Regions from separate parts of the Homo sapiens genome. Here region 2 is linked to region 1. Evidence: fine-mapped expression QTL. A gene starts in region 1. The other region holds a variant in brackets. All regions are shown on one strand. Distances are between the middles of the regions.

Region 1 (15,850 bases):
TAAACTCCCAATTTTTCTCTAAACAGAGTTGCCGTCTAGATTAATCTACCAGTCAGACACTCCCAACACTCAGACCAGCTTCAGACTCTCCCACTTTTTTTTCTGAGTCCAGCCGGTCAGCACCTCCTGCAGGTCCTTATTGCACAACATTTTTCACACCACCCCTTCTTTTCACTCTTGTTTCAGCCTTTTGTTCCTTCATACCTGCACTACTCTGATTGCATCTTGAAAGATTTCTGTTTTTCCCTGTAAGCTACCCAGAACACTATAATTGGATCATTTTTCTCAACACTGCTAACAAGCCACTTCCCTGGTTAAGAACTTACAATGGCTCCCTCTTGTCCACAGAATGAAATCCAGACAATCTAGCTCCAAAGCTCCCATGATTTGGCTTTAACCTGCACTTCCTGTTTTCTCTCTCGTTACTTTCCTGGGGAGCCCACTTCGGCTAAAATGGCTTATTTGCTCTCTGTGGTAGGCAGAATCATGGCCACCTAAATACGTCCTCCTCCTATTCCTCACATCTATATGTTACTTTACATGGCAAAACAAATGAGTTGTGATTAGATTAAGGATTAAGGATTTTTTTTTCTTTTTTTGAGACAGAGTTTTGCTGTTGTTGCCCAGGCTGGAGTGCAATGGCACGACCTCGGCTCACTGCAACCTCTACCTCCCGGGTTCAAGCAATTCTCCTGCCTCAGCCTCCAGAGTAGCTGCGATTACAGGCATGCACCACCATACCCAGCTAATTTTTTGTATTTTTAGTAGAGATGGGGTTTCACCATGTTGCCCAGGCTGGTCTTGAGCACCTGATCTCAAGTGATCCACTCACTTCGGCCTCCCAAAGTGCTGAGATTATAGGCGTGAGCCACCACGCCCAGCCCAGATTAAGGATTTAAAAATAGAAAGACCATTTTGGATGATCTGGGTGTGCCAATGTAATCCAAAGGACTCTTAAAAGATGGAAGAGGAAGGCAGAAGAGTCAGTGTCATGCAATTTTTTTGCTTTGAAGATGGTGGAAGGGGCCATGAGCCAAGGGATGTGGGCAGCCTCTGGAGGCTGGGAAGGGCAAGGACATGGATTCTCCCCTAGGGCCTTCAGAAAGGAATACAGTCCTGTGACACCTTGATTTTAGCCCAGTGACATGTGTTTCAGACTTCTAACTTCCACAAAAGTAAGAATAAGTTTGTATTGTTTTAAGCCACTGGATTTATGCTAATTTGTTACAGCAGCAATAGGGAATGAACACACCCTCTTACCCAAATACTTCCATTTTCCAGGATGATTGTTCTGGCTGTCTTCTGTTTGCACCTCCACATCCACTCCCCTGCTGCTCTGTGCTCCAGGAAGATGATCTATTTAGACTGTATCAATGGGTTCCCTTTCTGTCTGGCTTCTGTTTGGCCCACAGGGGGCACTAGCAGGAAACTGGAGAGCAGGGGAGGGGGAGATTGGGTCCAGAAGGTCACATCTCCCAAGAGGCAGCCCTCTCCATACAGCTGCCTGCCCCTGGCTGGCCTCAGGCCTTGGGTGGTAAGGGTTCCTTGTGCAGCTGGTGCCAGAGTTCTGCCTTGTTGGATTCCCTAAATCCTCCCCCCATCTTTGTAAATAGCCTCTTTATTAAATTTTTCTCAAGTTACTCGAGTGTATCCCGTTTCTTGTTGGGATGCTGGCTGATACATTAATATTACTTGGAATGCTGTTCTCTATTCTCATGGCCTATCTATGCGCTCTGCTCTTGAGACCTGGCTCAGATCCCAGTTCTGCAGGACCACAGAATGTCAGAGCTGAAAGAGTCCTTAAAGATTGCTCAATCCAGCAACATAGATGGTTTTTCTTCTATTTCTCTGACCATTTCTTTTTGGTCTCTTTTAGCAATTCTTCTTCCTCCACCTTAAATACTGGCATTCTTCAAGGTCTCATCTTATAAATTCTTCTATTTCCATACTACATATTCTCTCTGGAGGAACTCATCTGCCTCCAAAATTTTAATTATAATATATATCCAGGAGATTCCAAAATCTGTATCTTCATCCTAGACTTTTTTCCTGAGGGTTAGGCCCCTATATTTCCATCTGCCTAATTCACATCTCTCCTTGGCTGCCTCAGACACCTCAAATATGTCAGAAGTGCTCTCATCATCTTTCCTCCTCCAGAATCTCCCATTTCAGGAAATTGGCCGAAAAACCAGGGAGCCATCCTTAACATCTTCTCTCTCTCGTCTCTTTTCCAGCCATCAATCACCAAATCCTGTCCTTACCTAAACGTGTTGAGAATCCACCCACTTCACTCATCTGCATTGTCCACATTCAACCCTATCCCTTCCTGATCCATTCGCCATACAAATGGCCAAAGTGAGCACAGAGTTAAACAACTCTTCTCTAGTTACTTAAAATCCTCCAGTGGCTTCTGCTGCCTTGAGGATAAGGTTCAAATTCAGTCTGTCTTCTGTCATCTTCGTCAGCCTCATCCTGTGCTGCACTCCCCATCTCCTCCTGGCTCCAGCCTCCTGGCCCAATTCCAATGCCTGGATCATGCCTTATGTTGTTCTCTCTGCTCAGAACACTCTCACCCCACTCCCCTCTGGCTGACTGCTATCCTACTCATCCCCTGGTCTCATGCAAGCTTCACTTCTTCAGGGAAGCCTTGTTTGGACCTGGAGACAAGGTCTGGGTCACTCCCCATCTCCATGCTACCCCTTTAATCACATCTGTTCTTGGCTTTATTACAACTACTTGCTTTATCTCTATTTTCCTTGCTAATCTCTGTGAGGGAGGGGGACTGTATGAGTTTTATTCACTGATAAAATCCTGACTCCCAGCACAGTTCTTGATCTGAAGTAGGTATCCAATAAATATTGTGTAACAAATGTCATGTGAAAGAAATGAGTTCAAATGAACCCGCAGGTCCAGAGCTCATTCCACTCTATCCACTGCTTCCTCTCCCTGTGATGGAGCTTTCTGAGATCATCTAAGCCCACAGAAGTTGCCCCTTCCTCTAAATTTGTATGCCTACATCACCAATTTGACATATCTTGCTATCTTTTCATGTATGTTGCATGTATGGTTCTCTCTCCAGCTACACTACAAACTCCCAGAAAATAAGTGCCATGTCATACTTCAGTAGGAAAATACATTAATTAATTAAAATAACATGTTCATACTATGTAACAGTAGCTGTTAAAACAAATTGCCTATGTTGTGTCAATGTACCAGGGGATCTCAAAGTCAGAGGAGAAAAAAAAAACTTGCATCCTCCTGGAGCACAACTTTGATCTGAAGATTTGGGGAAAAGCTAGTTATTATTATTATTATTATTATTATTAGAAATAGGGTCTCACTCTGTTCCCCAGGCTGGAGTGCAATGATGTGATCATAGCTCACTGCAGCCTTGTACTCCTGAGCTTAAGTGAACCTCTTGCCTCAGTATTCCCCCCACCTCCTTTGACCCCAGCTGAGACTACAGGTATGTCCCACTATACTCAGCTAGTTTTTAAATTTTTTGTAGAGACAGGGTCTCGCTACATTGCCCAGGCTGTATTTTTAAAAAGCAAATATAGAAATACTGTGGAGAAGAATGCAGTATTCTCATAGCTTTTAAAGTCAAATCAAAGCTTTTCCAGCTCATGGCTGGTCTGCTTTTGCCCCCACCAAGGCTGCCCAAGGGCTCCCATTTGTCTTCCGTCCTGTTAGCAATGCTGCCGTGGGAAGTTAGCAAGCACTGCTACAGCCTCCCCTCCAGTGGTGTGTCTGTCCCATGGCAAGCATTTAACATGCAATATGATGCTAATGTACATGCTGGAGTGAAGCAAATGCCTAACAAGGCTTCCAGGAGTCCTGGTGGGCAAGTACAGGAGCCAGTTAGGAAAACAGAAAATAGGATTAAAGACTTGAGCTGATGGAAGCATGACTTGGGCCCTTAAATAACTCTTCCTATTATCCAAATATACAAGCCTTGGGAAGGAAAATAAGGAGTATGGCTTTTTTTTTTTTTTTTTTTTTTTGAGACGGAGTCTGGCTGTGTCGCCCAGGCTGGAGTGCAGTGGTGCGATCTCCGTTCACTGCAAGCTCTGCCTCCCGGGTTCACGCCATTCTCCTGCCTCAGCCTCCCGAGAAGCTGGGACTACAGGTGCCCGCCACCACGCCCAGCTAATTTTTGTATTTTTAGTAGAGACGGGGTTTCACCATGTTGGCCAGGCTGGTCTCGAGCTCCTGATCACAGGTGATCCACCTGCCTTGGCATCCCAAAGTGCTGGGATTACAGGCGTGAGCCACCACGCTCAGCCCTCTTTATTCTTTTTAATATGTCTTCAATATTTCATAATTTTAAACAATTAGTGCACCGATTTGCACCAGAACCAAATCCACATTTTCTAAAACTAGTAAATTAGAACAGAATCTGCATATCAATGTATCCTCCAACAAAACATGAATTGATCTTAGATATTTAATTCATTTCTGGCTGCTGGGCAAATATAACACAGCAACCGCCTGTTTTGTAATGTAGCTATTTGAAGATGGGCCAATTAAGTTTGTTTTATTTTAAACAACTAAAAGACTTCTATATATTCTGGGAAATACTTGCAGAGGATGAAGGACAGAATGAGGCGGGATAAGGAGAAGTCTCAGTCTGAAATATGGTACGGCAATGGGAAGGAACAAGCTGAAAGAGGAAAGAGGAACAGATCTTACTAGAATGCAGAGCTCGTATTTCCCAATCTTACAACACAAACTTGCCAAAGATTAAATCATACTTGAAAAACAAGGTGCCCACTAGTGACTGCTCCTGTCCAAGGTTAGAAGAACACAGAAGACTAAAAGCACGGGCCTTGGAGTTAACCAACCCAAGGTCTGATGGTGCAGATATGTGTGCAGTGACAACCTCTCCAAACTTCTGGTCCTTCCTCAGTAAAACATGCAAAGAACAGTACTTATCTCAGAAGGCTGAGGTGACACTTAAGGTGACCATGTACATATTAGGCGCAGTGTCTAGCAAGCGCAAGCCCTCAGTCAAAGCTATTTCTCTTTCGTCCTTGGTTGTGGAATAATCTCGTGTTTTAGGTGTTCTTTCCCTCTGTTTTCCCCATCAAGATCTGCTGAATATAAAGAGGCAAAACCTGTAAGAGCTGCGGGTCAGCATTGCCAGGTGTAGAAAGCCACCATAGTGTAAGCTAGCCAAGCTATGAGATAGATTTCCACCTGGGTAGGAAGCAGTCAAAAAGCCAAAAAGTCTTGCTGTCTGCCCAGCCTGCCTCTTGGTTTCTAATTCTCATGGCGGGTCCTATTTCCCGCTGTTGTCTTGTCCCTGTGTTTGGCCTTCTTTTCTGTTTTTAGAGGAGTTCCTCTTGCTTGACCTCTATTTATCTCCTTGCCTTCCACTTGGAGATCTGCGCCTTTCTGGGTTTTAACTGCCTGTTGCTTTTAACCATGTCCTTCCTCTTGCCTTTGGGAACTTATGGGCTTCTTCTAACTTCCTGATTGGCACCGGGTTTCCTGCTTTTTGTCCTTTGATTCATGTGCCCTCCTTTCTTCTGCTTGCTTATGTGGTCTTTGACTCACTCATCTTGTCTCTTTCTTTGGCATTTTATACCAGCTAGGTTTTGATCCAGGTTTTGTAATGACTTATGGATGCTGTATGCACCCTGACTTGTGAGTGCTTACCTAGATGATGTGCAAAACATTTAGCAACTGGTATAGAAGGGACACTGCCCAGTCAGAATGGTTGTTTATCAACAATGAGGACAGTTGTCCCCATGCACACCGCTTGAATAGCAGCCCAGCTCACTGGACTCCACACTCCTCTAACCACTCTGATGAGGGACCTCCTGGTCCTTTCTTAGGGCTTGTGCCCCAGCTTGTCTCCTTTCTCCTCATGTCCAGGCTTGGCATGGCTGGCCTTGTGCCCTATTTTGTGAGCTCCTGCCACTCACAGTCCTGGAGTTGACTTTCTCATCCCCACCCTACCTAGCTCTCACCAGGGGAACCTAGGAATAGTGATGACACATGTGAAAGAGGTAATTAGTGGGGCAGCCTTGATGCCAAAACAGGATGGCAAATCATAAAAGCAGAAATAGCAAGAAATCACAGCTTTAAGGAAGGTTGTGCTGAAACATGGGACCAAGGCCAAGGAACTCAAAATGGCTTTGGGAGGAAAGGTGGCTATTTCAGTCCATGGAAGAGCCATAGCAGAAGAGCGCATCTCATTTTACACAACCACGAAGCCTTAAAGTTACGTAGAATTGACTTTTTGGTGTGCTGAAAATAAAAATGGTTCATAGTATACAACAAAGGACTAAGCAGGAGAATTTATAGGAAGAAAGTTAGGAAATTTAGGATGAAAAAGTAGACTGGGGTCAAACTGTTATGATCCATTAAAACCAGAAACTGAAATTTGAATTCTAATCTGTAAGTAATGTGAAGCACAAATACTTACAACTTACACATTTAATCATATGTCCTGACCTTTCACTCAAAAATGCATTAAAGGCAGTTTCTCAAAGGTGGTTCCATGTAACGATAGCCCCTCAAGATATTTTTCATTTTTTATTTTTGCACACAGTTTGGGAAACATTACATATCACATCCTATGGACATTCCCACCCCATTTACATCCCCATATACAATGATCATTAACCCATGAAAGGCTCTGAAAAGTCAAGAATAAACCAACTTGTCCAGCTTTGTTTAGTGTTTTCCACATCTGGCTAGGCAATTTCTTTTTCTTGTAACCCATTAACATTCTATGTATTTTGGGGAATACTGACTGAGAGATTCACAAGTACACACAGACATTCATGCAAGTAAATATGTATACTTTAAATTAGTATTTTCATGTATACATAAACACATATAATCCAGGTAAAGCAAAAATATCTTTGCAGCAAGGGATTCCGTGTAAGAGATTAAGTGTTGTAAGAGTTGATTCTGTTTTCGTGGTCTGGTAACAGGAAGTCTCTTCTGCACATGCCTTCTATGAACCTCTTTGAACCACTTAAAGTCTATAAGGAAAACATTTGGTTGTATATGATTTACACACAAGGGAATGAGAGGAAACCCCAAAACTTCTATCCTATCACAAAGCTAAATCATTTTTCCCCCAACACTACCCTAACCCAAAATAAAATGAACCACTGCCTATGTTCTCAAACTTCCTTACACACTGACACAGATCTCGGACACAGAGAGGAAAGGGACAGCACTTTCGGGATGGTTCTTGGGTAGGGCTAGAATTTCTTAGGTATGGAGAATTACTAATACTTTGAAGTTGAAGCTAGAGGATGGGGTACTTAAGCATAAATGATTGAGAGTAGCCAAGATAAACCAAAAATGGGAACACCAACCCCCCGTCCCCCCCACTCACACCTCCAATAGGTGATTTCAATTTTGGGAAGGTGAAGCCAAGAAATTCCCCACAGATTCACTGCAGCTGTTTGTCACGAACCACCCCCGTCTTCTACAACACTTTCTCTTTATTCGCTTATTTATTTTATTGACTTCCCCATTTCTTAAAGTTCAAATCTATAGAAAAGTTAAAAGAATAGTACAATAAACATTTGTTTTCTTCTTGATTCACCAACCGTCATCATTCTGCCACATTTGCTACGTTCCTGAACTTGTTCTGCTACCCCTATCCTTTTTTTTTTTTTTCTGACACAGCTGAAAGTTGCAGATGTCATGACACTTCACCTCCAATATCCACATCTCCAAAGAATAAGGATTGTCTGGTCTAGGTAACCACAAGAATGAACTATTATTGCACCTAAGAAAATTAACACCAATTCCATAATATCATCTAACATGCAATCCATATTCAAACATCCCCAACTATCTCCAAATTGTCTTTTATAGCTTTTTTTTTTGCATCTAGGATTCAAAGTTCACACATCCCAATTCACTATTGTATCACTTGAGTATTTTAACCTACAATAGTTGCTCCCATTTGCTCTGCCCCATCGCCAAGTCTTTTTGCAGGAACACTACAGAGGTGAAATTATGCCTCCTTATTGCTTCACAACGGGAGACTCGCAGTAGATGCTGCTAAACTTGGTCATTTGGTTCCAGTGGTGACCTCCTAATTTCTCCATTGTAAGGACAAATTTTCCCAGAGTAAACTGTGGTGAGATACTTTGAAATAATATGAAAATCCTATTCCCCAACCACCTTTCACTCAAAGGTTTTGGACCAGTTGGTAAGTCCTTGCCTTATTCAACTGTTATGTTAGGTTTGCAGAGCGCCGAGTTCCTGATTCTCTCATTCCTTCTATTGCATATTTCTTTTTCAAACAATGATCCATCAGTACGCAACTTCTCTTTTCTGTGTATACACATTCTGGTTACTTCTTGCTGGGGCTTCCTCCCCGACCTCCATGCTGACCACATTTGACCACTCGTGCCCAGCCCTAGGGAGCCACTAATCCTTTATCTGCTGATCCCATCACTTCACCTTCAGCAAATTAAAGACAAAAACAAACCCCATCATTTTGTTGCCCACCAATGTACAGTACCTTACAAAAATTAAAATGATTGCAATGCGTATTTATTGGGTTAGACTGAAGAGAGTCGATCGAGAAAATCAGTTTTATCTTTAAAAAAAAATCAGATTGCTGAAGCTCTGAAAAATCTTTCCTCCTCACTAGGGTAGAGGCGCTTGTTGTCACAATTAGGCTTTTTGTAGTGCTGTTAAACAGAAACACTCTCATCTTTTCAGTTCCCTGAGAGGGGAGAATCTTGGAAGAACAGAGGTTTACAAATCATTTAGCCCAAACGCCCCTTTACATGCAGAGGCCCAGAGAGGTGGAGGGACTTGCCCAGGTCCCTCAGCTCCTGAATGGTCAAGCTAAGAGGAGAACCTGGTTTTTAAAACACCTCCCCCGATCTTCTTTTCATTCCCGTCCTAAATGCCTCGTGATTCAGATATGTAATGGGCACAGACGAAGCTGCAGTAAGCACGGCCTCCTTCACTGCTAATTTGCATTGTGACGGCATCACCTTCCTACCTCTGAATACTCTAAAAATTCCCATTAGAAGCCTTTTATTACTGTTTTAAAAATCCACCTTCATTTCCGCAGGTCAACAGGGAACATTTAGGAAGCCTCAAGGGAGCACATACTACAATTACTTTAACCAGAAAAGTAATAACAATAATAATAAGGTTCTCGAGGATCCGCACGAGGCCGCTTACTGGGAGGCTGAAACGCCCTGCGAGTGACAGCTCCAGCGATCTCAGGAAAGACGCCGGCCAGTCCACCCCTCCCCATCGCCTGCTGAACGAGGCAGGGAGATGCATACCGCTCCAGGAGCTCACCAAACATGCACAGGAAGGGGAAAAGTGGGGGAACAAAGCCCGGAGTGGAAGAACACAGCCCCGCAGCCCGGGAGGACAGGAGACCGCGCCCTCCCCGCTGCGGCCCAGCGGGCTGCAGAGGCTGCGGCACCGCAGTGCGGGGCGCGGGACTCACACCCCGGCGGGCGCCTCCCGCCCGGGCGCAGCGCCTGGTCTCCCGGCGCAGCCGACCGGGCCGGGAGGCGAGAGGCGAGAGGCGGCCCGGCTCTGCACGCCCGCCCGGCCGACCGCCCATGTCGCGGAGCATCCTCCCGCGGGCAGGGAGGGCACGGCGGCCACCGCGCTGCGGGCCCGGGGGCTGCAGACACCGGCTGTCCAGAACAGGCCCCACCCGCCCCCCGGGGCGCTCACCCGTCCGTGCGCTCATCCCGGAGCCGGCTGTGCTGGCCGTCAGTCCGTCAGCCCCGGTGGAGCGGGGCCGGGAGAACAGGGGCGGCGCCGTGGCCGGGGCGAGCGCGGCGATCAACAGGCGGCTCCCGGCCGGGCGCGGCGCCGGGGCGCGCGGCTGCAGCGGAGCAGGCTGGGAAGCGTAGTTCCCGGCTGAGCCTCGCCGCGGCCCCGCAGTCCCCCAGCCCCGCCCTTCCCCGACAGGTGTCCTCTCCCGGAATCGGGGTCTGAACCCCGCCACAGCTCTGCAGGGGAGGAAGCACCTGGGTCGGGGAGAAGCCTGGGCAGGCTCTTTGGAGACGCTCGGGGCTCCGGAGAGCGTGGATGGCAAAGGCTTTCAAGCCTGTGATGAGCATTCCTGTGAGCGAGCATCCTGACACGGAAGCCGCGTTGAGAGCGGTCTCAGGTACAGACCCCGCCCGCCCCAGGTTTTCCTGGCTGGGCGTGGGCGTGGGAGGAGAGAGTAGTTGGGTTGGCAGCCTAGGGAGGGAAGGAGGTAAGCGAGGTGGAAGTTAGCAAGGCTCTAGGGTGATGGCGTGAGGGGCTGGAGAGCCCAAGCGCAGTGGCGGCTTCACTGAGGTGAGACCGGACAACTTAGCCTGTCTGAGCCTTCGCGTCCTCATCTGTAAAACAGGCTTCAAGCTTGAAAAAGTGTTGTGAGGATTAAGCGACCCATAGCACTTAGGATCTGGCACTTAGTGCATACTCAGTGAAAGTTCCTTCCTTGGGGTTTCCGAGGGAGTTCTTGGGCCGGGAAAGTCCTATATGTCGTGCTAACCTAAAGATAGTTGGACCTCGTTGGGCTGGGTAAATGTTAAAATCCACTGGGTTTGTTAGTCGTTGAGCCCGTTCACTTCATCCCTGAATATACCCTGAGATGTTCTGTCTGCCAGGTTCTTGAGAGCTCCAAAGATAGAGAAAATAAAGTCAAGTTTCTGAAGCATGACAGCAGAGTGGGGTGACATAGGACAAAGACCAACATTATGAAAATACATGGCATCTAGATTTAACTTCCAGAGGCCTTTTCTAATTAGATGTGATATCTCTCTCCTTCTTGAACTTTTGCAGCATATTTTGAGCATAACCTTTGCTTATGGGACTTATCTTGGCAGTCTAAGGTTCGTTGAGTTTTGCAAGTTGCTGCTATGCAGTGTTTCACATGATGGTGGGATTTGCATTCACAGATGTAGTGGAGGAAAATGAACCAAAGGGATGGATGCAGCATGGCTGGTGTAATCTCTATATGAAATTTTAGGCAAAATGTGAAAAGAGGTGAAACAGCTTTATAGTCTGTCTGGCACGAGGTGTGCAGTAATCGTGTGGCCAAAAAAACGTGCTGCAGAGGAAATTCCACATCTGAAAATGATAACACTGGTTTGCATTTATGAAAATACTTTCCTATTTGTGTTCTCATTTGATTTTTACAAGAACCCTTGTGAGACAGGCAGAGTGAAGGTATTTTTCCCCAATGATAGTTAATAAGAGGCACAGAGAGGTGATGTGACTTATTCAAGGTCATAGGGGTGTTCAGTAAGCCTGTCTTCTCTCCTTCCACTGTGGGCACCCCCAGCACTGTCTCCCTTTTGCACATTGCAAAATAGGGCCATACCTTCCCCAGCAGATGGGTTGAACCAGAAAGTAAAGTTAATCCTCTAAAACTCTGGGAACTAGCATGATGAACACTGGCACGCAGTGGCTGCTGACTGAGAGACCAGTGTTGTTTCTATGATCAATTGTGGTAATGGACTATATCTTGGGCCTCCTGTCAGAATGACAAATCTGAGCCAGAAAGAGTTAAATGAAATGGGGGTGTGACCAAATTACTTTAAGTCATGTTCCCAAGTTTTCCTGTACATTTGTTATTCCGAATGTCCTGTGTAACCGACAGGATGCCTTTGACTTTTTTATGTTGTACATTTGTTACAGTCATAGCCTTCTGTTAAATAAGAACAGGGCTGCTTACGGATCGAGCCAGCAGTTTTCCCAGAGAAAGCTGATAGTAGGCATATGCTGAAAATAATAAAGCAATTTCATTCATATTGGAAGAAAGAGTAGCAAAGGTGCTCAGTAGTGTACAGTATTTCTCTTTGGTTTCCCGTGGTTCTGCACGAGGAAAATGGCTGCATGTGATAAAACGAATAGAGTATTCCTTCAGAAACTAGCCATGAAAGGAAGCAGACAGGGGAATGATTTAAGTTAAAGTCATGTTCGGCAGTCGAAGCAGAGATACAAGAGCTATCCTACAGCCCCAGAGCCATGCTCCAGGAGGATGCTGACACCAAAATAAAGTGAGTTGTGAAAAGAAACTTCTGATCAGTCTCTGTCTGTATGATGAGTGTTGGAAGCTGGAAGGTGTTAAAGGATGAGTGAGGGAAGTAGAACATTTAACCTAATGTTAAAACTTAATGGAAAGATATTACCAGTTCCAGTCTGTTTAGCTCTTTAAATCTATTGCCTATGTCTTATCTTAAGGAAGAAAGGATGTCAATATGCCTATGACTTATCAGTTGAAACCCATGATCATTTCTGGACCATATCTTGTAAGTTTAACTTTTCTACTTGCTTTTTAGAAGATGAAAATGTAAAATTGAAACAGAACTCCTGGAGCTGGAAGGGACCTTACATATCATTTTGTGTAGCCATTTCTTCCTGTAAATGAGGAAGCTGATATATTGACTGTAATTGTCAAATGGCAGAAAGGAAAAAAGTTCAACGTGGCAGTTATAATGAAGTATTTTAATTATTCACAGTGGAATATGTAGCACACCTCATTAGGAACAGGTAGTAGACACTGTTGGTTGTCTATTAAACATTCAGTCCACCCTCTTCTTCTTTATAGAAGCCTATATGGGTGTTTACACATTAGGAAAGGTGACCCTATTAGCCTCTGAGAGGTACACTCTCAAATCTATCATAGACAAGAGGAATAGAATCCTCTTAACTGGCCTGTAAGAGTTTAGGAGTGGACATGTGACCCAGTTCTGGCCATTGTAAAGAGATACGATGAATCTGGGTCGGCCATATTGTTGTTGAGTCAGTCATCAACCAGCCCCAGTGCTGCCCTTCTTCTGGATTTCTTGTTATATGAGATAATAAATAACCTTATTGTTGAGTCAATTTGAGATGGAGTTTTCTGTTACTTGAAGCTGAAAGCATCCTAAGTGTTAAAGATGAAATGTGAAAGTACATTCTTTGGATGGACTGAAAGACTGCTTCCTAGAGTTGATTAAAAACAACCACCACAAACCACAGGCAATGTGATGGGATATTATCATATAACAGATAACAACATGGGTTTTAACATCAGAGAGTTTGAACCCAGATATTTACTGGCACAATGACTATGGCCAAGTTTCTGTAACCTCCCTTAAGCCTCATTTTCTTCATCTTTTTTTTTTTTTTTTTTTTTTTTTTTGAGACGGAGTCTTGTTCTGTCACCAGGCTGGAGTGCAGTGGTGCGATCTTGGCTCACTGCAACCTCTGGGTTCAAGCGATTCCCCTGCCTCAGCCTCCTGAGTAGCTGGGACTACAGGTGCTGCCACTACACCCGCCTAATTCTTTGTATTTTAGTAGAGACGGGGTTTCACCATGTTGACCAGGATGGTGTCGATCTCCTGACCTTGTGATCCACCTGCCTCGGCCTCCCAAAGTGCTGGGATCACAGGCGTGAGCCACCGGGCCCGGCCTTCTTCATCTCTTAAACTGAGGATAATAATACTTACCACATGGGGTTATTAGAAAGACTAACTGAGATAATTTGTGTCAAAGATGCTTCAAAGGATATGGTGGATGATAAAGACTAAAGGAGCAGTGACTATGTTGATGAATTATGAATTAAATCGTATGTGTAGTATAATTGACAGCAAACATCTAAAAGCTAATTACTATGTAATCATGATCATGTTAAATGATACCACAGTGATGCAATCAGCAAAATCCAAAATATAGGAAGCTCTACATGACAAACAACTGATTCTTCAATAAATAAATTGCAAGAAAAATAAAAGGAGAGAAAGCTTATAGATACACAGAAATTCAAGAGACAAATAACAAAATGTAATGTGTGATCTTAATTTGAGAAAGCAGCTGTTAAAAATTCACATTAATGAGACAATTAGGGAAAATGTGAACACAGAATATTTGATTATATTAAGGTCTGTTTTCTAAAATTATTATTATTATTTTGAGACAGAGATTTGCTCTTGTTGCCCAGGCTGGAGTGCAATGGCGTGATCTCGGCTCACCACAGCCTCCACCCCCTGGGTTCAAGCGATTCTCCTGCCTTAGCCTCCCAGGTAGCTGGGATTACAGGCATGCGCCACCACGCCTGGCTAATTTTGTATTTTTAGTAGAGATGGGGTTTCTCCATGTTGGTCAGGCTAGTCTCAAACTCCTGACCTCAAGTGATCCGCCTGCCTCAGCCTCCCAAAGTGCTGGCATTACAGTTTTTGTTGTTGTTGTTGTTGTTGTTGGTTTTGAGACAGAGTCTTACTCTGTTACCCAGGCTGGAGTGCAATGGCGTGATCTCGGCTCACTGCAACCTCTGCCTCCCGGGTTCAAGCAATTCTCATGTCTAAGCCTCCCAAGTAGCTGGGACTACAGGCGTGTGCCACCAAGCCCGGCTAATTTTCGTATTTTTTTTTTTTTTTTTTTTTTTTTAGTAGAGACAGGGTTTCACCATGTTGGCTAGGCTGGTCACGAACACCTGACCTCAAGTGATCTGCCTGCCTTGGCTTCTCGAAGTGTTGGGATTACGGGCATGAGCCACCATGCCTGGACTAAGGTGTTATTTTAAAAAATTTTTTGATGTGACAACAGTATCATGATTATTTTTTTGAAGAGTCCTTACTTTTTGGAGCGATAAACTGATTATTTACAGAAGAAATAATATCAGGAATTTACTTTAAAAATTATCGAGTGTGGGAGACGGGGTAGAGTGGTGGGGTGGGGTATAGATGAAATGATTGGCCATGAGTTGATAATGGTTGAAGCTGAGTGTTGGAGCTTTATTAAACCATTCTCTCTCTTTCTCTCTCTCTAAATACAGTTTTGTTAAGACATATTTCACATATCATAAATTCACCTTTTTAAAATGCACAGTTCAATGGTTTTTAGTATATTCACAGAGTTGTGTAACTATCTCCCAATCTATTATAACTTTAGAACGTTTTCAAAACTTCAGAAGAAACCACAGACATGTTAGCACTCATTCCTCATTCCCCCTACACACCCAGACTCTGGCAATCACAAATTTATTTTTTGTCTTCTCTAGATTTGCTTATTCTGGATATTTCACGTAAATGGAATCATACAACATGTTGTCTTTTATGACTGGCTTCTTTCCCTAATTATAATATTTTTAGGGTTCATCCATGTTGTAATACACATTAGTACTTTATTCTTTTTTATGGCCAAATAGAATTCATTGCATGGATAGACCACATTTTGTTTATCTGTTCATCAGTGGATGGACATTTAGACTGCTTCCACAGTTTTGCTGTTATGAATAATGTTGCTATGCACACTCATATACAAATTTTTGTACAGATATATTTTTATTTCTCTTGGGTATATATCTAGGAGTGCAATTACTGTGTCATATGGTAACTTTATATGAAGCATATTGAGGGACCACCAAACTGTTTTCCAAAGTATCTGCACCATTTTACATTCTAACCAGCAATGGGTGAAAATTCCAATTTCTCCACATCCTTGCTAACACTCGTTAATGTCTTTTTAAAATTATAGCCATCCTAGTTAATATGCAGTGGTATCTCATTGTGATTTTAATGATTTCCCTAATGACTAATGATGTTGAACATTTTTTCATGTGCTTACTTGCCATTTTATATCTTCTTTGGAGAAATGTCTATTCAAATCCTTTGCCTACTTTATTTTTCAGTTGGACTATTTGTTTTATTGCTATTGATTTATAAAAGTTCTTTATATGTTCTAGACACAAGTGCCTTATTAGATATGCGATTTGCAAATGTTTTCTCCCATTGTGTGTGTGTGTGTGTGGTGTGTGTTTTTAACTTTCTGGATGGTGTTCACTGGTAAACATCCCTTGCTAGTTTGAGGGAGTTCCTGTTTATTCCCACTTTGTTGAATGTTCTTATAA
Region 2 (15,850 bases), 42 kb before region 1:
GGTGAACATGGTGAAATTCTGTCTCTACTAAAAATACACAAATTAGCAGGGGATGGTGGCATGCGCCTGTAATCCCAGCTGCTCAGGAGGCTGAGGCAGGAGAATCGCTTGAACCTGGGAGGCGGAGGTTGCAGTGAGCCGAGATGGCGCCACTGCACTCCAGCCTGGGTGACAGGAGTGAAACTCCACCTCAAAAAGAAAAAAAAAAAAAAAAAAAAAAAGAAGATATAGAGACCCAATTTAATTTTGTTCCAAAATGCTAGCAAATTATCCCACCATCTTTTATTTCATTCTTCCCTGATTTGAATCTGCTTTATTGCTCTGCTAGTATATTTTTGTGCCAGTACCATACAATCTTGATTACTTTGTAATAAGTTAAAAATATATACCTTTTAAATTTGGAAAATTTAAGTATGGAGTGGATGAAGAAGAAAAGTTTATGGAGGAACTCTTGCGTCCCAAGCAAGTTTAAGGCTTATCTCTTTGCTTCTCTCTTTCTTGTCATCCAGCAACCCCTCAAACGAGTCTCTCCTCAAGAACTTAACACAATGTGGTATTTCCAGTTAGACAATAATAATTATGGTAGAGATTAACGCTCTAAGCATTTTGAGTAAATGGGAGGGAGTGGCAGCAAAAAAGTAAGAGATGCTGACCTCAGAGTTTCATGAGCAACTTTAGCAAATGACATAGTTTAGAAGAGTGGGACCGTATCAAGGGATGAGCCCTGAGCTAAGGTTAGGGCTGCCACTACTACGGCTTGTGCCCCTGGAGCATTTGAGTCCTGGACTTGGATAACTTGCAGTGTTAATGCAGTGGTCCAAAGTTACCCCAAATCACCTATATTCCCAAGTATCTGAGTCCCTCCTCTCCAAGTAGCTGGCTATTTTCCTAGTAGTTTAAATTCTGCTCAGCATCCTTACAGCTGCTTTGTTTTGCAATAAAAGACAAATCCACACTTATTCATCCTTGATTTGAATGTTCTATTTATATAGACGTCAACTGTAATTTCTTTAGGGTTTTCTCTATTTTGTAATGAACCTTGGATGACATTCTGGCAAAGTAGTGAAACAGAAACACCAACTCTGCTTTTATGTTAACTTAAACCATTAATATAATCTGGAATCAAAAATAGGAAATATTAATAATAGAATAATAGCTTTATTTTTTTTTGAGGGGGAGGAAGGAGATGCTAATAGCTATATAAAAGACTTAGAAGCTGAAGAAAATTAAATTGGGGGGCATATAAAAAAGGGGAGGAATTAATGTAACATACACTATGTTTCTTCCTCAGCCTGCATCTTTTTTTGGATTTGAGGTCTTACATAAACCCAGGACAATAGATGGGCATCAAAATTTCTTATAATTTGGATATACAGTCTTTATATATACTTAAATTATCTAAGTATGTAGTGTATTAAATTATATAACTTTTATTATGTTATATTATATTATATATATATTTTAAAGATGAGGTCTTGCTATGTTGCCCAGGCTGGACTCGAACTCCTGGGCTCAAGGGATTCTCCTGCCTCAGCCTCCTAAGTAGCTGGGACTAGAGGCCCAGGCTCTTTTTATATTTTAAGTCACCAAACACAAAGGGGGAAAAATAGAAACAAATGTTTAAGCATATCTTCAAATCGCCTTCTGTGTTTTTCTAAGTGACCTCTTTTATCTACTCAAATTTATTTAGCAGTTCCCCATCTGTTTCTTTAATATGCATCACCGATTGTTCTTCCCATGGGGGCACCTGATTAAATCACTGCACATTGACCTGGAGCCTAGCCACAGCAGCCTGCCCCCAGTGGTGGATTCTCAGCAGGCCTTCGCTTTGGTGCAGCTGCCCATTGCTGTGCTGTTAAATTGGTCTTGGCTTCTGGTTCTGCCTGAGGAAACTGTCTTACAGATTATTTTATTTCAAACCCCTCATTAGATAGATAAGGAAACTGAGGTTACTTCTAACAGTCTATGAGTCAATGAACACAATTTGGATGCAAGACAAGTTTTGACCCCGAATTCCCTCATTTCTCAAGTAAAGCAAACAATTTTTTCCAATTCCTCTAGAAAATCTTTTCTTAGAGAGAGAGAGAGAGAGAGAGAGAGACAGGGTGTGTGTGTGTGTGTGTGTGTGTGTGTGTGTGTGTGTGTGTGTGTGAGAGAGAGAGAGAGAGAGAGGGAGAGAGAATGAATATACAGGGTCTAGGTCTGTTGTCCAAGGTGGAATGCAGTGACACATCCATAACTGACTGCAACCTGGAATTCCTGGGCTCAGGTGATCCTCCTGTCTCATTCTTGCAATGCATTGGGATTACAGGTGTGAGCCACCACACCCAGCCTCTCTAGAAAATCTTAATCCTCCTTGTCGTATACAAATAAAGAGACGCCAGGCTAGGCGCGGTGGGGCTCATGTCTGTAATCCCAGCACTTTGAGAGGCTGAGGCAGGAGGATGGCTTGAACCCAGGAGTTTGAGAACAACCTGGGAAATATAGTGAGACCCTGTCTCTACAAAAATTTAAAAATTAGCTGGGCATGGTAGTGTGTGCCTGTAGTCCCAGTTACTCAGAAGGCTGAAGTGGGAGGATCACTTGAGCCAGAGAGGTGGAGATTGCAGTGAGGCCACACTGCATCATTGTACTCTAGCCTGGGCCATAGAGTGAGACCTTGTCTCAAAACAAACAAACAAAAAACAAACAAAAAAAAGAAATAAAGAGAAGCCATTTCAGAAGCAAAATGAAATACTAAAGTTGAAAAACTACACAAATCCATTCCTAGATGGCTGAGGAGGGGTGATGAGGTTGATTTAGAGGGGATTTTAGGGAGCAAATTCTTTGTACTTCAGGGTTTTGTTTTTTTTTTGAGACACGGTCTTGCTCTGTCACCCAGGCTGGAGTGCAGTGGCATGATCTTGGCTGACTGCAATCTCTGCCTCCTGGGTTCAAGTGATTCTCACGCCTCAGCCTCCCCAGTAGCTGGGATTATAGGCATGTGCCACCACACCTGGGTAATTTCTGGATTTTTTGGCAGATATGGGATTTCATCATGTTGGCCAGGCTGGTCTCAAATTCCTGACCTCAGGTGATCTGCTCGCCTCGGCCTCCCAAAGTGCTGGGATTACAGGCTGTACTTCAGGGTCTTCTTTATATGCATTGTCAAAAGCTGCTCTGTTCTAAATTTTCACAATTCTAGCTCATTCTAGGCTAATTCTAACTCAATACTAGGCATAGAGTTGCCAGGTTTAGCAAATAAAAATACAGGACACCCAGTTAAGTTTGACTTTCTGATAAACAACAAATAATTTTTTTAGTATAGTATAAGGTATCCCATATATTTGATGACACATGCTAAAATTTATACATCATTTATCTGAAAGCCAAATTTAACTGTATTTTATGTGGCAACCTTAGCTAGGTGGTATCTTGTAAGGAACTAGGGACAGAGTGTGTGATATTATTTCAGATATGGGGTTTCACAATGGCCTAAATCCGTAAACAAAGTTAAATATACTTTGGAACAGGGTATCCACTTCTGTGTTAGTTTCCCTGGAAATATTTACTAAGTGCCCACTTAGCTTCTTCCTGATATGAGTCTATTCAACAAATATCCCTGAGTGATCACTTCTGTTCTCTCCCTTCATATTTCTCTCTGGCTTGTTTCCTTACTCCCCCACACCCTGATGCCACTTTCTAATTTACTAGCAGCTGGACATATGCTAGGATACACAGCATCGAACTTCCTGAGTGTGCGGGGCCCTGTGTGGCACATCCCCTGGGGTGCTGCCTCCACATCTCTGTGTCTAGGAAAGCCGTTTTGGTGGCACATTCCTTCTGGCAGGATGCGAATGTAAAAGTTCCTCTCTCCTAGTGGGCTTTCTGTGTTCCCCTGGCAACAAACATCATTAGTCCAGGGCCAGAGGGCCTGCACTGAAAACAGTCTGCTTGTCCTGGTTAGCAAAGACAGAGAATAGAGCCTCCATAGGAACTGTTGAGGGTTTCCAGGGTTAGGCAACAGTCCTGGATGGCACTCTGCGGCTTTATCAGATCTTGGAGGGTCTGCACCAGGAACTTTCCCAGAGATGGCCCCCAGACATGCAAAGGATGCTCTGAGCAGTCACTTCCCCAACTGTCTCTCCCACCATCCCACAGGGGAACGAATGCTCATACCACAAGTCTCCTTGGTCTCTCCTTTCCAAGGCCCTTTCTTTTCAAGATATAGTGTCTGGAACCCCATCACAGACCCTTCCCCATGGCCAGAGGAGCAGGGCTCTACATCATGGCTGATCACTGAGAGTTGCTGTCTGTGGGCAGGAGTCAGCTGAAGCCAGCAGAGCAACTCGGAAGGCACTGCAGGCTGACGCTGGGAAAAAGAGGTCGCCAGGCAGGAAGAGGTGGCTCTAGGGAAAAGCACCTTGCTTTGGCTGCAGACGGGAACCTGAGAAATGCTGTGGTCATGATCAATGAGACTGTGATCAGACCACAATCTCATGGGTGTGGCCTGCTACTCTAAGCCAGACCATCTTCTAGAACCCTGATTCCTTTAAATAGGCTCTCTGCAGCCAGCATCAGACTGCAGGAGCCTGCATCTGCTCTTTTGGTTCTAGAAGTCTTCAGCCAAGGAAAAGAAATCTGAATCTTTGGACACGGCTACCCTGCTTTCTCTGTTAGCAACAGTCCCAGTGAGAAGCAAAAGTAAGGCTGGGATAGTACAGGGAAGAGATACATGCCAAAAGGCAACAATGATGAGACTGAATAAAGCAGCTATCAACACCTCTGCCACCACCTCCTTGCTTTCTCTTCTGGAGCCTGACTAGCCTAGGGTTGTGGGATAGATGGCTCTTTATGTCCCAGGCTGCCCCACTGTACATTGTTTGATTAGTAACATGCTCTTCTGCACATCCTCCATGGGCCAGAAATGGTTCTAAAACTTACAGGAAATCCAGTACATCAAATTGAGTCACACACAGAACTGTGTCTTTTAACTCATTCCTTGTGGCATTTCCCCCGCTCACTGCACACCCTGTGAGTTGACTTTGCCTATTCTCTGGCCTTCCTTACCTGGTTGTCAATCTTGATTTCTGTCAAGGTGTCATTTTCTTTCAGTGCCTCTACCAGGGCCAGGATCCCAGTTCCAGTGATAAAATTGGATTCTATGTTTAGACTTGTCAAGGTCTTGTTTACTTTCAGCATGTCTGCAAAAGCCTTATGATGCAAAAAGAAAAAAAACTTAGAATTAAGTTAGAATTTCTAAAGATTAATTTACTAAACCCCTCACTCCCAAATTAAATACAGATGTTTTCTAGCACTTAAAGAAAACCTTCATCAAATCATACTTTCACCTCCAAGTAACAAAGATACAATTTAAAACCACAATTAAAATATTTCAGTCCAGCAGTCTAGACATAAATTTCACATACTTGCAAAAACTATTTTTAAAAAAGATACTGACATAGGATTACAGATTTTTTTTGTTAAGTAGAGACATTAAAAAAAAACCACTACTGTTTTTTTTTTTTTGAGAAAACACATTTTAACATTAGAAAAAAGGTAGAAAGGACATAATCCCAGAAAACCCAGTTTTTTTCCTTTACTATGAATTAATTAAAAAAAAACTTTACCATTGACTAGCACTTGGAAACTAGTGATTTAGTTATATTATTTCAGATCATGTATAAATCAGAATTTTTAAAAAATAACTTTTGGAACAAAATCACCACTGAGGGTGGCAAACCCATGGGAGACTCCAGTTTGAGACAGCGGACTGCACACGGGCACCTGCCGGCTCTCTTTACTCCCAGAGTTTCCCACCACCAGGAAGAAATAATATAATTTTTAAGAGACTGGAATTCTCACAGTGCAAGAAAACAAAACAAAACAAAAGGCCATTATCTTGAGGAATTGCTGAAATACAGAAAATAGAAAGATTCACAGATAAATTAGCACAAGCAAGTTGTTGCCTGAGCTGCTAGAGATAGGTCCCATTTGGGGCAATTCCTTAAAGAACCGCCTTAGGAACAGATGGAACAGCTAGGGCAGATGGAGAGTACACTATCCCTCCCAGCACCTTCCAGGAAAAAGAGCAGCTGCCAGCACAATCAATGAAGTCTCCCAGGAAGAGCCTCTGGTGAAGGTGCTGCGACCTGTGACAGAAGCAGTGCGGAAACAGAGGCGCCTCCAGACCTTCACACCAGTACAGTGTGGGGGGAAAATGGGAAAGGCAGCTCTGCCAGGAATGAAGTACAGTATTCCCTGCAATCTGCGGTTTCAGTTACCTGCTGTCAACCTCAGTGGGAAAACGTTAAATGGACAACCCCAGAAATAAACAATTCATAAGTTTTAAATTGCATGCTGTTCTGAGTGGTATGATGAAATCTTATGGTCTATGTCGCCCAGGAGGTGAATCATCTGTTTGTCCAGCATCTCCGTGCTGTCCCTGCCTATGAACCAATGACACTGTCTGCTTTTGACATCCAACCATTGACATCGTCATGGCTGGATGAGCCAGGATCACCGGAGGTAGATGATCCTCCTTCTGACAAATGGTCAGAAGGGCAACAGTAGCCTAACGCAGTCCCCTTGCCTATGTCATTCACCTCACTTCATCTCATCATACAGGCATTTTACCATCTCATGTCATCATCACAAGAGGGAGGAGGATAGTACAGTAAGATATTTGAGAGAGACCATATTCACACAACTTCTATAACAGCATATTGTTATTATAATTGTTCTATTATTAGTTATTGCTGTTAATCTCTTACTGTGCCTAGTTTAAAAATTAAACATTATTATAGGTGTGTAGTATAGGAAAAGACATAGCACATATCGG[G/C]TTTGGTACTATCTGTGGTTTCAGGTATCCACTGAAACCTCTGCAGATAAGGGGACTACTATACATTGAAAGGTGCCCCTCCCAGAATGAAGTCCTCCTAACTGTAGCGATTGCAGGGGACTCTCAGGCTGCCTGTGAGCTCCTTATACACACACTGCAGAGAAGGTGGCAGGTCAGCACACCTGCTGCTGAAAAAAAGCTCTCACTCATACATTCAAAAAAGACTATTTGTCAGGCTTCTACTGTGCTCTAGCAGTAAGAGAAAACAAAAATCCTTGTCCTCAGAGAGGCTTATATTTGAGCAAGAGGGCAGAGTCAATAAATTAATAAATAAAATATATAGCTTATCAGATGGTGACAAATGGAGAAAAATAAAGGGGCCTCCTTTTTAAGGGAGAGGTCTGTTGGTAAAACAGATAGATACAACTGCAGGAGAAATGATCCTGGATTATACAAACCAACCTTGCTCTCCATTATAAACAGGGAACCAATAATTGCCAGACATTTTAAGAAAACCAACATCATGAAAGAATAAAGTTGACCAAGCAGGTCAATATGCCATAGAAGAAACAGACACAAATTTAAAAATTCTGATTATGTATTATTTTCCTCCCTGCCCCACAAGAAAAAGAAAAAGAAAGAAAGAGAGAAAAAGTCGGGTGGGGGGTGGGGGGCGGCGGAGAGAGACAGAGAAAAGAAAAACATTTTGAACATTTAAAAAAACTACATTGAAATAAAAGAAAATAATAGACATCTAGAATTACAAAATAAGCATGGCTGAAGACCAAGTTGGTGATCTAGAAGATAACACTGAGGATATTTCCAAGGATATACAGCAAAAAGATGAAGATAGAAATTATGAGAAAACCTTAAGAGATGTGGATGAAAGATGCAGAGATTCAACATTCATCTAAGAAGAGTTCCAGAAGGAGAAAGAAAGAAAGAAAGAAAGAAAGAAAGAAAGAAAGAAAGAAAGAAAGAAAGAAAGAAAGCAAGCAAGCAAGCAGAAGAGAAGAAGTTATCAAATAATTAAGGAGAAAAAATAAATTTCCCAGAGATGAAGAAAGTTACGGATCTTTATCTGAAGGAAATAACTAGACACTCAGCAGAATGAATAAAAAAAACTTTTTTTTTTTTTTTTGAGACAAAGTCTCACTTGACATGTTGCCCAGGCTGGAGTGCAGTGGCACTGTGTCGGCTCACTGTAACCTCCATCTCCTGGTTCAAGCAATTCTCCTGCCCCAGCCTCCCAAGTTGCTGGGACTACAGGCATGGGCCACCACGCCTGGCTAATTTTTTTTATATACTTGTAGTAGAGACGGGGTTTCACCATGTTGGCCAGGCTGGTCTCGAACTCCTGACCTCAGGTGATCCACTAGCCCTGGCCTCCCAAAGTGCTGGGATTACAGGTGTGAGCCACCGCACCCGGACCAAAATGACTCTTAAGTGAACAGACAAGTGAAATTTCAGAATTCCAAGAGGAAAGAGAGTACTAAAAATTTCTAGCAAGGAAAAACAAGTTACCTGCAAAGGATCAAAAATCAGGTCAGCACTAGTCACTACATTGTAAGGCCCATGAGAATGGAGATTTATATTTATATAAGTCATATAATTGTAAATGCTGCTAATAGGTTAATTTTTGGAATCAATCTATATACAAACACAGAATATAATTACAGAAAATGTATAAAGCTCAAATGTGTGAAAATAATGGAATATCTACAATTTGGAAGTGGAAGAGAAAGGAGGAATGGAAAATTAAGTATAGAACTACCCTCATCTTTTATAATAGAGAATAAAAAATTTTCTAAGATGATAAATGAAAAATATAAATTTCTGTATATTACTGGTTTTCTACATTGACCACACATTAGAATGGTCTGGGAGCTTTAAAAAATTTACCCCAGATGAATTAAATCGGAATCTCTGAGGCTGTGGAATGGCCATCTGCATTTCTGAAGAGCTCTCCAGGTGAATAATGTGCAGTTAGGATTGACAACCACTTTTTTCTTTTTTGGTGTAGAAACAGGTCTCTCTATGTTGCCCAGGCTGGTCTCGAACTCCTGGCTTTAAGTGATCCTCCTGCCTCGGCCTCCCAAAGTGCTGGGATTACAGGCATGAGCCAGTAACCACTTTAATTAAAGTCATAAAGACAACAACCAGAAGAATGAAAAACAAACTGCTAATAGTGATTGCTTCTGGGGAGTAGAACAAAAAAGTTCTGAACTATTTTAATTGTTTTTACAGTGGAAAAGACAGGAAGAAGGAAGACGAGAAGTCCCAATATTGGATGAGAACAGGGTTATTTAACCTCAGCATGACTGACACTTGGGGCCAAAGAATTCTTTGTTGTGGGAGGCTGTCCTGTGTATTGAAGGATATTTAGTAGTATCTCTGGCCTCTGAGACTCACTAGATGTCAATAGCACTCCTCCCCATCATGACAACCAGAAATATCTCCAGATGCTGCCTATTGTCCCCTGGAGGGCAAAATTGCCCTAGGTTGAGAACCACTGGACTAGAAGAATAATCCTGTATCTTGGTCAGGCAGTTGCTTGCACTGCAAAGAAAGCTCAACAATTTGGATTTACACTATCGCATACCATGTAAATTAAAGTGCATTTATTCTGTGCTAGGTCCTTGATTAAAATTAAATCTATACATTTTAATCTGATCATCAGAGAGGGATGCATCAGGACTTTCCTTTTGGACTCTACAAGCTTTGGGATTTACTATCATTATTAGAATAACAAAATGTCAGAGCAATTAGGCCTTTACAGAAAGTTGCAGGACCTCCTGGCGAGTTGCCAGGATCTTGCCAATTTCTTTTAAACTTGAGAAAACACTTTCTTGTGCTGAACAAAACAGGGGCGAGCCAGCCAAACACAATACTGGGCTGTAGGCCCAGGTTCACTTCAGTTCAGCAAATATTTGAGCATATTACATGTGCTGGGAATAATAACATTAGTAAAACAAAGACTAGATGTTTTAAATGTAATTGAAGTAGAGTAGAAATACATCTTTAAAGAGAAGGGTTTGCTGTCTGTACTTTATAGGATTGTATGGAAATGCAAATTTCTGCACTGGCCAAATGGTAGCCATGAGAAATGTGGCTACTGAGCCCTTGAAAACTGGTTAGTCTGATTTGAAATGTGCTGCAAACATAAAACACACTGGATTTCAAAGATGTAGTATGAAAAAAAGAATGCAAAATACCTCATTATATTTTCAAATTACATTTTGGATATATTGGTTTAAATACAATACAGAGAGTCCCTGACTTACGATGGTTCCACTTTCCATTTTTGGAATTTACCATGATGTGAAAGTGATACTTATTCAGTATGCTCCTTGACTTATGATGAGGCTATGTTCAGATAAAGATTTTCAATTTACAGTAGTTTTATCTGGACATAACCCCATTGTAAGTCAAGGAGCATCTATTTACTACTAAAATTAATTTTGTCTACTATGTATTTTTTTTAATGTGGCTACTAAATAATTTAAATTTATACATGGGGCTTCCATTTGTGGCTCATGTTTTATTTCTTTTTATTTTTTATACTTTAAGTTCTGGGTTACATGTGCAGAATGCGCAGTTGTGTTACATAGGTATACACGTGCCATGGTGGTTTGCTGCACCCATCAACCTGTCACCTACATTAGGTATTTCTCCTAATGTTATCCCTCCCCTAGCACCCCACCCTCCACAGGCCCCGGTGTGTGATATTCCCCTCCCTGTGTCCATGTGTTCTCATTGTTCAACTCCCACTTATGAGTGAGAACATGCGGTGTTTGGTTTTCTGATCTTGTGATGGTTTGCTGAGAATGATAGTTTCCAGCTTCATTCATGTCCCTGCAAAGGATATGAACTAATCCTTTTTTATGGCTGCATAGTATTCCATGGTGTATATGTGCTACATTTTCTTTATCCAGTCTATCATTGATGGGCATTTGGCTTGGTTCCAAGTCTTTACTATTGTGAATAGTGCCGCGATAAACATATGTGTGCATGTGTCTTTATAGTAGAATGATTTATAATCCTTTGGGTATATGTCCAGTTATTAAGATTGCTAGGTCAAATGGTATTTCTAGTTCTAGATCCTTCAGGAATTGCCACACTGTCTTCCACAATGGTTGAACTAATTTATACTCCCACCAACAGTGTAAAAGCATTCCTATTTTTCCACAACCTCTCCAGCATCTGTTGTTTCCTGACTTTTTAATGATTGCCATTCTAACCGGCATGAGATGGTATCTCATTGTGGTTTTGATTTGCATTTCTCTGATGACCAGTGATGATGAGCATTTTTTCATATGTCTGTTGGCTGCATAAATGTCTTCTTTTGAGAAGTGTCTATTCATATCCTTTGCCCATTTTTTGATGGGATTGTTTGCTTTTTTCTTGTAAATTTGTTTAAGTTCCTTGTCAATTCTGGATATTAGCCCTTTGTCAGATGGATAGATTGCAAATTTTTTTCTCCCATTCTGTAGGTTGCCTGTTCACTCTGATGATAATTTCTTTTGCTGTGCAGAACCTCTTCAGTTTAATTAGATCCCACTTGTCAATTTTGGCTTTTGTTGCGTTGCCATTGCTTTTGGTGTTTTAGATATGAAGTCTTTGCCCATGCCTATGTCCTGAATGGTATTGCCCAGGTTTTCTTCTAGGATTTTTGTGGTCCTAGGTCTTACATTTAAGTCTCTGATCCATCTTGAGTTTATTTTTGTATAAGCTGTAAGGAAAGGGTCCAGTTTCAGTTTTCTGCATATGGCTAGCCAGTTTTCCCAAGAGCATTTATTAAATAGGGAATCTTTTCCCCATTGCTTGTGTGTGTCAGGTTTGTCAAAGATCAGATGGTTGTAGATGTGTGGTGTTATTTCTGAGGCATCCGTTCTGTTCCATTGGTCTATGTATCTGTTTTGGTACCAGTACCATGCTGTTTTGGTTACTGTAGCCTTATAGTAAAGTTTGAAGTCAGGTAGCGTGATGCCTCCAGCTTTGTTCTTCTTGCCCAGGATTGTCTTGGCTATGCAGGCTCTTTTTTGGTTCCATATGAAGTTTAAAGTAGTTTTTTCCAATTCTGTGAAGAAAGTCAGCAGTAGCTGGATGGGGATAGTGTTGAATCTACAAATTACTTTGGGCAGTGTGGCCATTTTCATGATATTGATTCTTCCTATCCATGAGCATGGAATGTTTTTTCATTTGTTTGTGTACTCTCTCTCTTATTTCCTTGAGCAGTGTTTTGTAGCTCTCCTTAAAGAGGTCCTTCACATCCCTTGTAAGTTCTATTCCTAGGTATTTTATTCTCTTTGTAGCAATTGTGAATGAGAGTTCACTCATGATTTGGCTCTCTGTTTGTTCTTGGTGTATAGAAATGTTTGTGATTTTTGCACATTGATTTTATATCCTGAGACTTTGCTGAAGTTGCTTATCAGCTTAAGGAGATTTTGGGCTGAGACTATGGGGTTTTCTAAATATACAATCATGTTATCTGCAAACAGAGACAATTTGACTTCCTCTATTCCTATTTGAATACCCTTTATTGCTTTCTGTTGCCTGATTGTCCTGGCCAGAACTTCTAATACTATGTTGAATAGGAGTGGTGAGAGAGGGCATCCTTGTCTTGTGCCGGTTTTCAAAGGGAATGCTTCCAGTTTTTGCCCATTCAGTATAATATTGGCTGTGGGTTTGTCATGAACAGCTCTTATTATGTTGAGATACGTTCCGTCAATACCTAGTTGATTGAGAGTTTTTAGCATGAAAGGCTGTTGAATTTTGTTGAAAGCCTTTTCTGCATCTATTGAGATAATCATGTGGTTTTTGTAGTTGGTTTTGTTTATGTGATGGATTATGTTTATTGATTTGCGTATGTTGAACCACCCTTGCATCCCAGGGATGAAGGCGACTTGATCATAGTGGATAAGCTTTTTGATGTGCTGCTGGATTCGGTTTGCCAGTATTTTATTGAGGATTTTCACATCAATGTTCATCATTACTGGCTTAAACATCCTCTTTTTTTGTTGTGTCTCTGCCAGGTTTTGGTATCAGGATGATGCTAGCCTCATAAAATGAGTTAGGGAGAATTCCATCTTTTTCTATTGCTTGGAATAGTTTCAGAAGGAATGATACCAGCTCCTTTTTGTACCTCTGGTAGAATTCGGCTGTAAATCGGTCTGGTCCTGGACTCTTTTTGATTGGTAGGCTATTAATTATTACCTCAATTTCAGGACCTGTTATTGGTCTATTCAGAGATTCAACTTCTTCCTGGTTTAGTCTTGGGAGGGTGTATGTGTCCAGGAATTTATCCATTTTGTCTAGATTTTCTAGTTAATTTGCGTAGAGGTGTTTATAATATTCTCTGATGATAGTTTGTATTTCTGTGGGATCAGTGGTGATATCCCCTTTATCATTTTTTATTGCATCTATTTGATTCTTCTCTCTTTTCTTCTTTGTTAGTCTTGCTAGTGGTCTATTTTGTTGATCTTTTCAAAAAACCAGCTCCTGGATTCATTGATTTTTTGAAGAGTTTTTTGTGTCTCTATCTCCTTCAGTTCTTCTCTGATCTTAGTTATTTCTTGTTTTCTGCTAGCTTTTGAATATGTTTGCTCTTGCTTCTCTAGTTCTTTTAATTGTGATGTTAGGGTGTCGATTTTAGATTTCTCCTGCTTTCTCTTGTGAGCATTTAGTGCTATAAATTTCCCTCTAAACACTGCTTTAAATGTGTCCCAGAGATTCTGGTACGCTGTGTCTTTGTTCTCATTGGTTTCAAAGGACATCTTTATTTCTGCCTTCATTTCGTTATTTACCCAGTAGTCATTTAGGAGCAGGTTGTTCAGTTTCCACGTAGTTGTGCAGTTTTGAGTGAGTTCTTAATCCTGAGTTCTAATTTGGTTGCACTGTGGTCTGAGAGACAGTTTGTTGTGATTTCTGTTCTTTTACATTTGCTGAGGAGTGTTTCACTTCCAATTATGTGGTCAGTTTTAGAGTAAGTGCGATGTGGTGCTGAGAAGAACGTACATTCTGTTGATTTCGGGTGGAGAGTTCTGCAGATGTCTATTAGGTCCACTTGGTCCAGAGCTGAGTTCAAGTCCTGGATATCCTTGTTAATTTTCTGTCTCATTGATCTGTCTAATATTGACAGTGGGGTGTTAAAGTCTCCCATTATTATCGTGTGGGAGTCTAAGTCTCTTTGTAGGTCTCTAAGAACTTGCTTTATGAATCTGGGTGCTCCTGTATTGGGTGCATATATATTTAGCATAGTTAGCTCTTCTTGTTGAATTGATCCCTTTACCATTATGTAATGCCCTTCTTTGTCTCTTTTGATCTTTGTTAGTTTAAAGTCTGTTTTATCAGAGACCAGGATTGCAACCCCTGCTTTTTTTTACTTTCCATTTGCTTGGTAGATCTTCCTCCATCCCTTTATTTTGAGCCTATGTGTGTCTTTGTACATGAGATGGGTCTCCTGGGTACAGCACACTGATGGGTCTTGACTCTTTATCCAATTTGCCAGTCTGTGTCTTTTAACTGGGGCATTTAGCCCATTTACATTTAAGGCTAATATTGTTATATGTGAATTTGATCCTGTCATTATGATGCTAGCTGGTTATTTTGCTGCCATTAATTGATGTAGTTTCTTCATAGCGTTGACGGTCTTTACAATTTGGCATGTTTTTGCAGTGGCTGGTACTGGTTGTTCCTATCCATGTTTAGTGCTTCCTTCAGGAGCTCTTGTAAGGCAGGTCTGGTGGTGACAAAATATCTTAGCATTTGCTTGTCTGTAAAGGATTTTATTTCTCCTCCACTTATGAAGCTTAGTTTGGCTGGATATGAAATTCTGGGTTGAAAATTCTTTTCTTTAAGAATGTTGAATATTGGCCCCCACTCTTCTGGCTTGAGAGATCCGCTGTTAGTCTGATGGACTTCCCTTTGTGCTTAACCCAACCTTTCTCTCTGGCTGCCCTTAACATTTTTTCCTTCATTTCAACCTTGGTGAATCTGACAATTATGTGTCTTGGGGTTGCTCTTCTCGAGGAGTATCTTTGTGGTGTTCTCTGTATTTCCTGAATTTGAAAATTGGCCTGCCTTGCTAGGTTACAGAAGTTCTCTTGGATAATATCCTGAAGAGTATTTTCTAACTTGGTTCCATTCTTCCTGTCACTTTCAGGTACACCAATCAAACGTAGATTTGGTCTTTTCACATACTCCCATATTTCTTGGAGGCTTTGTTCGTTTCTTTTCACTTTTCTTTCTCTAATCTTGTCCTCTGACTGTACTCCATTAATTTGAACTTCAATCACTGATATCCTTTCTTCCACTTGATCAAATCGGCTATTGAAGCTTGTGTATGCTTTACGAAGTTCTTGTACTGTGGTTTTCAGTTACAAAGTTCTTGTACTGTGGTTTTCAGCTCCATCAGGTTATTTAAGCTCTTCTCTACACTGGTTATTCTATTTAGCCATTCGTCTAACCTTTTTAGCTTCCTTGCAATGGATTAGAACATGCTCCTTTTGCTCAGAGAAGTTTGTTATTACCGACCTTCTGAAGCTTACTTCTGTCAACTCGTCAAACTCATTCTCTGTCCAGTTTTGTTCCCTTGCTGGTGAGCAGTTGTGTTCCTTTGGAGAAGAGGCGTTCTGGTTTTGGGAATTTTCCGCCTTTCTGCTCTGGTTTCTCCCCGTCTTTGTGGTTTTAGCTACCTTTGGTCTTTGATGTTGGTGACCTATGGATGGGGTTTTGGTGTGGATGTGCTTACTGTTGATGTTGATGCTATTCCGTTCTGTTAGTTTTCCTTCTAACAGACAGGCCTCTCAGCTGCACGTCTGCTGGAGTTTGCTGGAGGTCCACTCCAGACCCTGTTTTCCTGGGTATCACCAGCAGAGGCTGCAGAAGAGCAAATATTGCTGTCTGATCCCTCCTCTGGAAGCTTTGTCCCAGAGGGACACCCACCTGTATGAGGTGTCTGTCGGCCCCTACTGGGAGGTGTCTCCCAGTCAGGCTACACGGGGGTCAGGGACCCACTTGCAGAGGCAG

Evidence for each region.
Region 2: its variant is fine-mapped to the expression of TMOD2 in whole blood (TOPMed, PIP 0.98).

What each region holds. Positions count from the first base shown.
Region 1 is chr15:51,745,556-51,761,405 of GRCh38, reverse strand. It overlaps TMOD2 (tropomodulin 2), which reads right to left and starts at 9,809. Exons shown (of 10, transcript NM_014548.4): 1 at 9,694-9,809. It also overlaps a transcript of LYSMD2 not described here. RefSeq lists silencers at 9,396-9,455, 9,486-9,595, 9,646-10,075 and an enhancer at 10,186-10,255.
Region 2 is chr15:51,787,540-51,803,389 of GRCh38, reverse strand. TMOD2 (tropomodulin 2) reads right to left here. Exons shown (of 10, transcript NM_014548.4): 8 at 5,050-5,193. Among named protein-coding and RNA genes, the nearest start is that of TMOD3, 34 kb to the left of the region's middle. RefSeq lists enhancers at 8,500-8,669, 15,620-15,850. The variant G/C (reference allele first, on the strand shown) is at 6,821.